Linked DNA regions of Homo sapiens: regions 2 and 3 are each linked to region 1. Evidence: fine-mapped expression QTL. A gene starts in region 1. Each other region holds a variant in brackets. All regions are shown on one strand. Distances are between the middles of the regions.

Evidence for each region.
Region 2: its variant is fine-mapped to the expression of DDX18 in blood mononuclear cells (TOPMed, PIP above 0.99). The same link has a PIP of 0.9 or more in hypothalamus.
Region 3: its variant is fine-mapped to the expression of DDX18 in tibial artery (GTEx, PIP 0.93).

Annotation. Positions count from the first base shown.
Region 1 is chr2:117,813,250-117,816,014 of GRCh38, forward strand. DDX18 (DEAD-box helicase 18) reads left to right here and starts at 1,442. Exons shown (of 14, transcript NM_006773.4): 1 at 1,442-1,613. The coding sequence starts at 1,529. RefSeq lists enhancers at 1,204-1,498, 1,226-1,763, 1,309-1,438, 1,569-1,618, 1,639-1,688 and 1 more.
Region 2 is chr2:117,841,614-117,844,378 of GRCh38, forward strand. LOC107985939 (a long non-coding RNA gene) reads left to right here. Exons shown (of 7, transcript NR_158150.1): 7 at 1-43. Among named protein-coding and RNA genes, the nearest start is that of DDX18, 28 kb to the left of the region's middle. The variant T/C (reference allele first, on the strand shown) is at 1,695.
Region 3 is chr2:117,849,651-117,852,415 of GRCh38, forward strand. No RefSeq gene overlaps it. Among named protein-coding and RNA genes, the nearest start is that of DDX18, 36 kb to the left of the region's middle. The variant C/T (reference allele first, on the strand shown) is at 1,543.

The DNA.
Region 1 (2,765 bases):
TATATACTGATATATGCATAAATTTAAACTGGCATATATATTTACACTGAGATAAATGTTTGCGTGTGTGTGTGCGCTCTTACATTTCTGAATCATTCTTCAGCCTGCCTGATCATTAACAAATTAATCTAAGCACATTATTATTTGTTTGTCTTAGTTTTCCAGTCCAATCCAATGTGATTTCGAAGTCAATTCCTTCACATTCTGTTTAAACTCCCTCCCAAGTTTTCTCCCTCTCTGTTCCTCACTATGATCAGGTCTAATCTCCAGGGTCTCATGTTCTGCCCCTCCAAGTAAACAAATTAATCCAGGTTTCATGGACTCTTCCAGTTGTTCAGCTCAAATTGATTACTGTTAAGGGGAATTTGAGGGCATTGGGCCAATTTTTAAAGACAAATATGAATTTTTATGGAAATCTCCAAGTATTTTAATGTTGATAACAATTTTTTTAAAAATTAAATACTATATGCATACCCCTGTCTTCCTCCCCATCCCAAAAAAGAGATGACTATTAGCTAGCCACATTGCAATTTCTGTCCTGGACTGCTGAAGGGTCCTTGGGTATACTTAAGGAATATATAAACCTCTTTTTCAAACTGCAGTCAACCTATTATTAATGTAGTAAAGTTAATTTAAATTCATAGGAATCAGTATTTTTAGTAAGCTAAAAAGAATAATTTAGGATGGAATGAATGGAATTGAAGGAAAAAGAGTGAAAAGCAAGAATATTATTTTGAGAAATGTTATATTTATGTGTGTATGTGTACCAAGTGACACAGAAATTGTATTTCTGAGGAGAGTGGCCAAACAAGTTTGGAAATGCATATATATAATTTAGTTCTATTCAGTTTCCCAAATACAGTTGTCCCTCAGTATCCACAAGGGATTGAGTCCAGGACCCTCTATGGGTACCAATATCTTAGGATACTCAAAACCCTTATATACAATAGTGTAATATTTGCATTTATTTTACACACAACATCCTGTATACTTTAAATCATTTCTAAATGACTTATAATACCTTATACAACCTAAATGCTATGAAAGTAGTTATCACACTGTATTATTTTTAATTGTTTTTTTTTTAATGTTTTCAATGGGGGAGTTGGTTGAATCCACAGACAGGGAATTCAGGTACAGGGAGGGCCAACTCTAGTTCTGCACCCACAGAGGATAGGAACATAAAAATGCGGACTCCCTAAGGCCTCCTTCCCCTCCACGTTCTTTCTTCAGTCTTCCTCTAGGGGGAGCTCAAGTTAGCTTTAGCACAGTGTGAAGCCAGTGCAGCGTCTCGCTTCCACTTCTCCAGGGGGCGCTGCAAAGATTTTGGTCGCCAAAGATATCACGGTGCGCGCGTCTGGAAGCATTTCCGCTCTGGAGCATTTTCGTTCCGCCGGGTGCCAGCGTTCCTGTGACGCGTTTCCTGTTGGCCGAGCTGCGCACGTGCGGCCGGAAGGGAAGTAACGTCAGCCTGAGAACTGAGTAGCTGTACTGTGTGGCGCCTTATTCTAGGCACTTGTTGGGCAGAATGTCACACCTGCCGATGAAACTCCTGCGTAAGAAGATCGAGAAGCGGAACCTCAAATTGCGGCAGCGGAACCTAAAGTTTCAGGGTGAGATGCGTTGACTCGCGGTGGCTCAGAAGACCCACGCGCGAGCCCTGGCGCGTTCGGGCGGCCGGGGGCCCAGCTGCTCTGTGTGACGGAGGCAGCTTCCCCTGCAGCGTGTGTGATTGGGGAGAGTGAAAAGGCAGCTTCCACTCGGGACCCGCGCTGCTGCCCACTCGTCGCGTGGCTCCAGCGCTGCTCCTGACCTTTCTGAGCAATCAGTGTCTTCTTACAACGTTAGAGCGGGAGGACTCCCCGTTCACTTCTAGGCTTACGACTAACCCTGCCTTTTGCATTTCCACCTTAGCTTTTGGTTCCCTCACCACCTGCAAGTCGCACCTCACCTCATCCCTCATTTCCGGTTATGCTGCATGAAACGTCTCATTTCCACCCACTTTTCACATCTATTTAATTCCCGTATTTCTTTCCCCAAAAGCCCGTCTGGCTGTTTCCACAGAGCTTCTTTGATACTATTGCCTTCCTCTACCCACTTCCACACGTTCTCGTAGCACTTTCTCACCAGAGCTTCTACGTATTTGTGTCCCGCACAGTGACCTAAATGAAAAGGATTTTATCTGAATGTCACCTTTCTTACCTACCTCATTTGCAGTCCCAGTGTCCTGACAGTGGGGCCACAGATCTTGAAGTAATTGTGTTAACCTGTTGTCCAGGTTAAGATACAAACTCCCCGAGGGAAAGTTTGGAGGCACAGTGCCTTGCCCCAGTTGGTTTTCAACAGACATTAATTGAAAAAAAATTCTGCAGGAGGCAATAGGTTTGTGAATTTTAGGAATATGTTTTGAAATACTCTTGTATTTCTAATTCCTATAGAATAATACTACAGCATTACTACTTTTCAGCGCATATGTAAGTAAATTTGAACAAAAGATGGTGTTTTATCTTTTTCAGTAAACAAACAGGGAACCTTTGGTAAGGACATTCTCAGGTACAGTCATGCATCGCATAACAGGAGGGGGGATACATTGTGAGAAATGTGTCATTAGGGGCTTTTGTCGTTTTGCGAACTTTATCTAGTTACACAAACCTAAATCTACTACACACCCAGGCTACATGATATAGCCTGTTGCTCGTAAGCTGTCATCCTGTACAGCATGTTACTGTACTATACTCAGAGAATTGTAACACAATGGTAAGTGT
Region 2 (2,765 bases), 28 kb after region 1:
TAATTCTTTCAAGTGCCTTTGGGTAATAAATGGTTGCGTACTCAGGTTTTTAGTCCAAATTTTTTTTCTTCAACTCTAGGTAATTGCTTTACTTGCCAGAATAGGTTACCATAGCAATATTTTCTGAGCAATAGGTGAACTGAATTGTACTATTGAGGAAGCCCAGGAGAAAAATACTAATAACAACCTGAGAAAGTCTAATCACTTTATGGAGCCTCAGGGCTGTGAAGAGGGGGATAAGACGGACTCCCTGGGTGATTAGGAAGTGCTGCTGCCAGCTCACACAGGACGCAATGTGAGAAGCCACCCATGGTCCCCAAATTCCCCCATCTCCTGATATCCAAGTCCCCCATCCAAGCTGCTTAAATGACAAAAGACAAATGTAAACTGGGGAAACATTTGAAATGCATATCAAAAAGGGGTATTTCACAAAGCTCTCCAACAGGAGGCCTAGGAAGATGGTAACAGCGATACCAGAATAATGTTTGGATCTTCCAGAGTGCCCATGTGAAAACAGAGCAACCAAACTGAAAAGCCATGGACAACAAAAGTCGGTGACAAAGTGTCACCTTGAATCCTGAAATACAAGTAAGTGGAATTGCTGGTCGTAATTCTACGATTAGCTTATTAAGAAACTGCCAGCTTTGCACAGCAGCTGCACCATTATTTATTACATTTCATGAGAGCTGCAAGTTTTTTGCCTCCTTGCTAACACTTGTTATTTATATTTTTCATTTTTCTTATAGCCATCCTGGTGGGTATAAAATAATATCTCATTATGGTTTTGATTACATTTTCCTAATGACTCATATCACTTAGCATCTTTTTAGGTGTTTGTTGGCCATTTGTATATCTTCTTTAGAGAAATATCTTTTCAGATCCTTTGCCCTTTTAAAAATTGGGAAATTTAAATTGCTGAGTTGAAAAAGTTCTTCACATATGTTGGATACTAGACTCTTATCAAATATATAATTTGCAAATATTTTCTCCCATTCTGTGGGTTGTCTTCACTTTCTTAGTAGTGCACAACTTGTCAACTTGTCCTTTGATGCACAAGTTTCAAATTTTGACAAGCCCAATTTATCCATTGTTTTCTTTTGTTGCTTGTGCCTTCGGTGTCATAGTTAAGAAACCAGTGCACAAGCTACTGCTCTGAAGAGTTTCCTCTATGTTGTCTCCTAAGAGTTTTATATTTTTAGCTCTTAACTTTCAGTCTTTGATAGATTTTGAGTTAATGTTTGCATTAGGTATGAGATAAGGATTCAACATCTTTCTTTTACATGCGGATGTTCCAGAACAATTTGTTGAAGAGAGTGTTCCTTTTCCCATAGAATGGTCTTGGCACTGTTCAAAAATCAATTGACCATTGATATATGAATTTATTTATGAACTCTCAATTCTGTTCCATTGGTGTATATGTGTATCCTGATGCCAGAACCACACTTTTTTGATTACTGTAGCTTTGCAGTCAGTTTTGATCCTGTGAATTATGAGTCATTCAACTTTATTCTTTTCTCAAAATTGTTTTGGCTATTCCAGGTTCTTGAGATTCCATATAAATTTTAGGACTGAGTTTTCTATTTCTGAAAAAAAAAGGCTGTTGTGATTTTGATATGGATTGCATTAAATCTATAGATTGCTTTGAGAAGTAATGATACCTTAATAATATAATGTTGTCTTTCAATGTATGAATA[T/C]GGCATGTCTTTTCATTTATTTAGTTCTTTTAAAATTTCTTTCAGTGATGTTTTTTAGTTTTCATTTACCAGCTTTGCAACTTTTTGGTTAAATTCATTCCTATGTATTTTATACTTTTTAATGGTATTGTAAGTAGAATTGTTTCTTAGTTTTATTTTGAATCATTCATTGTTTGTGTATAGAAATACAACTCATTTTTAAGTGTGGATCTTGTATCCTGCAACTTTGTTGAATTAATTAGCTCTAACAATTTTTTGTGGATTCCTTAGGGTTTTCTATATATAATATCATGTCATCTGCAAATATAGTTTTACTTCTTTCTTCCCAATTTGGATGCCTTTTATTTCTATTTCTTGCTTAATTGCTGTGGCTAGAACTATGCTTAACCGAACTGGCAAAAGTGGGCATCCTGGTCTTCTTCCTAGTCTTAGAGAGAAAGCTTTCAGTCTTTCACCATTGCATATTATGTCAGCTCTGGCTTTCCATATACGATGATGGTCCTGTATCATGTTGAGGAAGGTCCCCCCAACATTTTTTTTTTCTTTTTTTCTTTTCTTTTTTTTTTTTTTGAGACAGTCTCACTCTGTCACCCAGGCTGGGGTGCAGTGGTGTGACCTTGGCTCACTGCAACCTCCACCTCCCAGGTTCAAGCGATTCTCGTGCCTCAGCCTCCCAAGTAGCTGGGATTACAGGCATGGGCCACCATACCTGGCTAATTTTTGTATTTTTAGTAGAGACAGGGTTTTGCCATGTTGGCCAGGCTGGTCTCAAACTCCTGGGCTCAAGCAATCCGCCCACCTCAGCCTCCCAAAGTGCTGAGATTATGAGCCATCACCATACCCAACTGGAAGTTCCCTTTTAATCCTAGTTTCTTGGATATTTTGTCTTCAACTGATGTTGAAATTGTCAAATGCTTTTTCTACATGCAAGTACAACTTGTTTTATTTTATTTTTTTATTTTTTTTGGAGACAGAGTCTCGCTCTGTCACCCAGGCTGGAGTGCAGTGGTGCGATCTCAGCTCACTGCAACCTCTGCCTCCTGGGTTCAAGCAATTCTCCTGCTTCAGCCT
Region 3 (2,765 bases), 36 kb after region 1:
TTTTCAAAATATTTCATGCTTTTCTCTAAAACCTTATAGCTATCATTCACTGACAAGCAATGCATGGGTAAGATATTTCTTTATGGCCCTCTATTGTCATCCTATTAATCTAGACATTAAACTTATAAGTATCATCTTGTCTTGATTTATTTTTCTAATCTATACTTTTCTCAATGATGTGTTTCCTAATTGACATTTCCAAATTACGAGCCTTGGGGTTCTTTTAATCATTTTGGTTTTTAAGCACTTTTTTATTTTGCTTCTCCGAAGTTAGTTAGAAATTGCAACTACTGGTTATTCCAGGGCTGATGGTTCAGTTACAGGCTCTGGGGCTAAATCCCCTGGTCCTGGCTACCCTGAACTTCACGCAGCTCTGAGTAGGGGAGTAAATTAGCCTGCAGGGGGAATGTGGGTAATTCTCGACCTCATTACAGCCCTCCTTTCCAATTTCGCCTTCCTACGAGCAGCTTAAAATGCAGAAGAGATCAGCTGAGACACACACTCTCCTCCACGTGCTCCCTCTCCCTCCCCACCTGATCCTGCTTCTATCCCCTCACCCCTCCTGATGAGGGAGGGAGGAGAGCACAACAGGTGGAAAGATGAGCCAGTGAGAATTTCAAACCCAGCGGAGTCCCCGCCCATGGGATGTGACCTGTTTGTACAGGATTCTTGCAGTTATTGGGTGGTCTTTATTATCATTGTTGACTCTGGGAAACTTTTCATTCTTGACCCAGAGTCTTCATTAGAGATCTTTTCATGAGAAAAAGGGCATTTTTAAGAGCTGAGGTTTGAATGCATGGAAATTTTTAAAAACTACCTTTGGTCATGTGAAAAGAAAGCAGCTGGCAGGTGGTGGGGGAAGGAGCCCATCTGCTAATTAAAACTCCAAGAGTAGTAGGAGGAACAACTACTCTAAGGCACTATCTTTCCCCACGTTCCTGCAAACAAATTAGCTTCAACACCCACACACAGTAGGAAAACAAATGCCAATTATGCCTCGATGTTTCCTTGAACCTGTTTTCTTTTCCCTGTCTCCAACTGATCCTTAACACTGCTTTGATAGTGGGCTGGAGATAAGCCCATTGCTTATCTGGAGAAATGATTTCCACCCACTTTTATTCTAAAGCAAATCCGCAGCACTGAGGAGGCTGGGACCAACATCAAGCCCAGATCCGTTTCCACACATAGAGCAAAACTCTTCATTTTGGTTGAGTACCAACAATAGTAGTTTATAACATAGGAAAGGAGTGTGCCTTTAATTATTGTATTTCAGTGTAAAACATAATCAGAGGTTAAAACAGTTTTATGAAGGCAGATAACATTATGGCATATATTAATGTATAGAGGATGCACATCCATTTATTTCCAACTGCAGATATAATGGGGTACCTGACTGGGACTAGATCAAATGATTTTGGCTTTATTCTTGGTTGCTTCCCAGTTTTGGCAAGTACGCAATTATGAATAAATATGCTACAAACAACGATGTGCAGGATTTTTTGTGTATATAACTTTATTTTCTCCATATGATTTTCTAAAATC[C/T]TGGTGGAGACAAGCAGTGGGTGAGGAAGAAAGATGGCTAAAGTTGCAGGCACTTTTTCAGTTTCTCTGGAGGCAGAGGTCTGAATTTCACCTGTGATGTCAAGCAATTTCTTTGTCTAAGCCTTTTGGTAATGCCAAAGTAAAGCAGCAATCCCTTCTGGAACAGAGAGGTTTAGGAGCAACAAGGAGGGAAACAGGGCTGCTTGGCCCCATAAAAGAGCATTTCCCTATATGTGGCAGGCTTCTCTGTTCATCACATTCCCTTTAGGGGAAAAAAATTTCTCTAAATGTGGATTTAGACTATCCCTAAAAAAATTTTGCTTGTTTCCCAGAGGGGTGTGTGTGTGTGCATGTGTGTTGGTGTGTGCACACCGACTTTCTTGTTCAGGAACTCACCCGTCTGTGTGGTTAGGAGCAGAATGAAGCTATGAAGGGAGCAGGAAGGATGAGGTGGCATGTCTTCATGACATGCTCTCTTTTTTAAACTTCACACCAGGTATCCTGGCAGATTTAATAACTCTGACCTCAGGAAAGTTCCCTCTTTTGGGGGTTTTGCACTGTTTAGGTGAGGAGAAGGACTAAGGCAAGGCCTTAGAAGGATCCTTTGTTTCTGATGGGAGTAGACATTCTGGGTACCAGATACCCTGGAGATGGGCTGGAATGTGAGGTCTGAGGAGTTGAGTCTCAAACTTGAAGGTGGAGAGAAATCCTCAAGGACCTTTGTGTTGAGATGTTTAACCCTTCCAATATTGGTCATTTGGAACAGCCATATCCAGTGTCTGGCGGTTTTCTCTGATTCCTTGTGAAAAACATTGATTATCACATAGAGCACTAAGGCAAGGGCTGTGCCAGTGCTGCAGACCTTTCTCTGGGAAACCACAGGAGGGAAACCTGGCAGGACTAACACTTCCTGGTTGAACGGGATGTTTAAGAGAGGAAATGCCTGCTAGAGACATCTGAATTATCTAGATCAATGGTTCTCAACTGGGTTGATTCTGCTCCCAGGAGATAACTGGTGGGGTCGGTGGTGGCTACTGGCATCCAGGGAGTAAAGAACAAAGAAGCTGCTAAACATCCTACCACATACTTGATAGCACCCACCCCACCCCCAACAAAGAATTATTCAGCCCAAAATCTCCATAGTGCTTAGGTTGAGAATCCCTGACTCAGGAGGAGTTAGTGAAAACATTTAGATGTTCATATGTAAATACAATAAAAGCTGA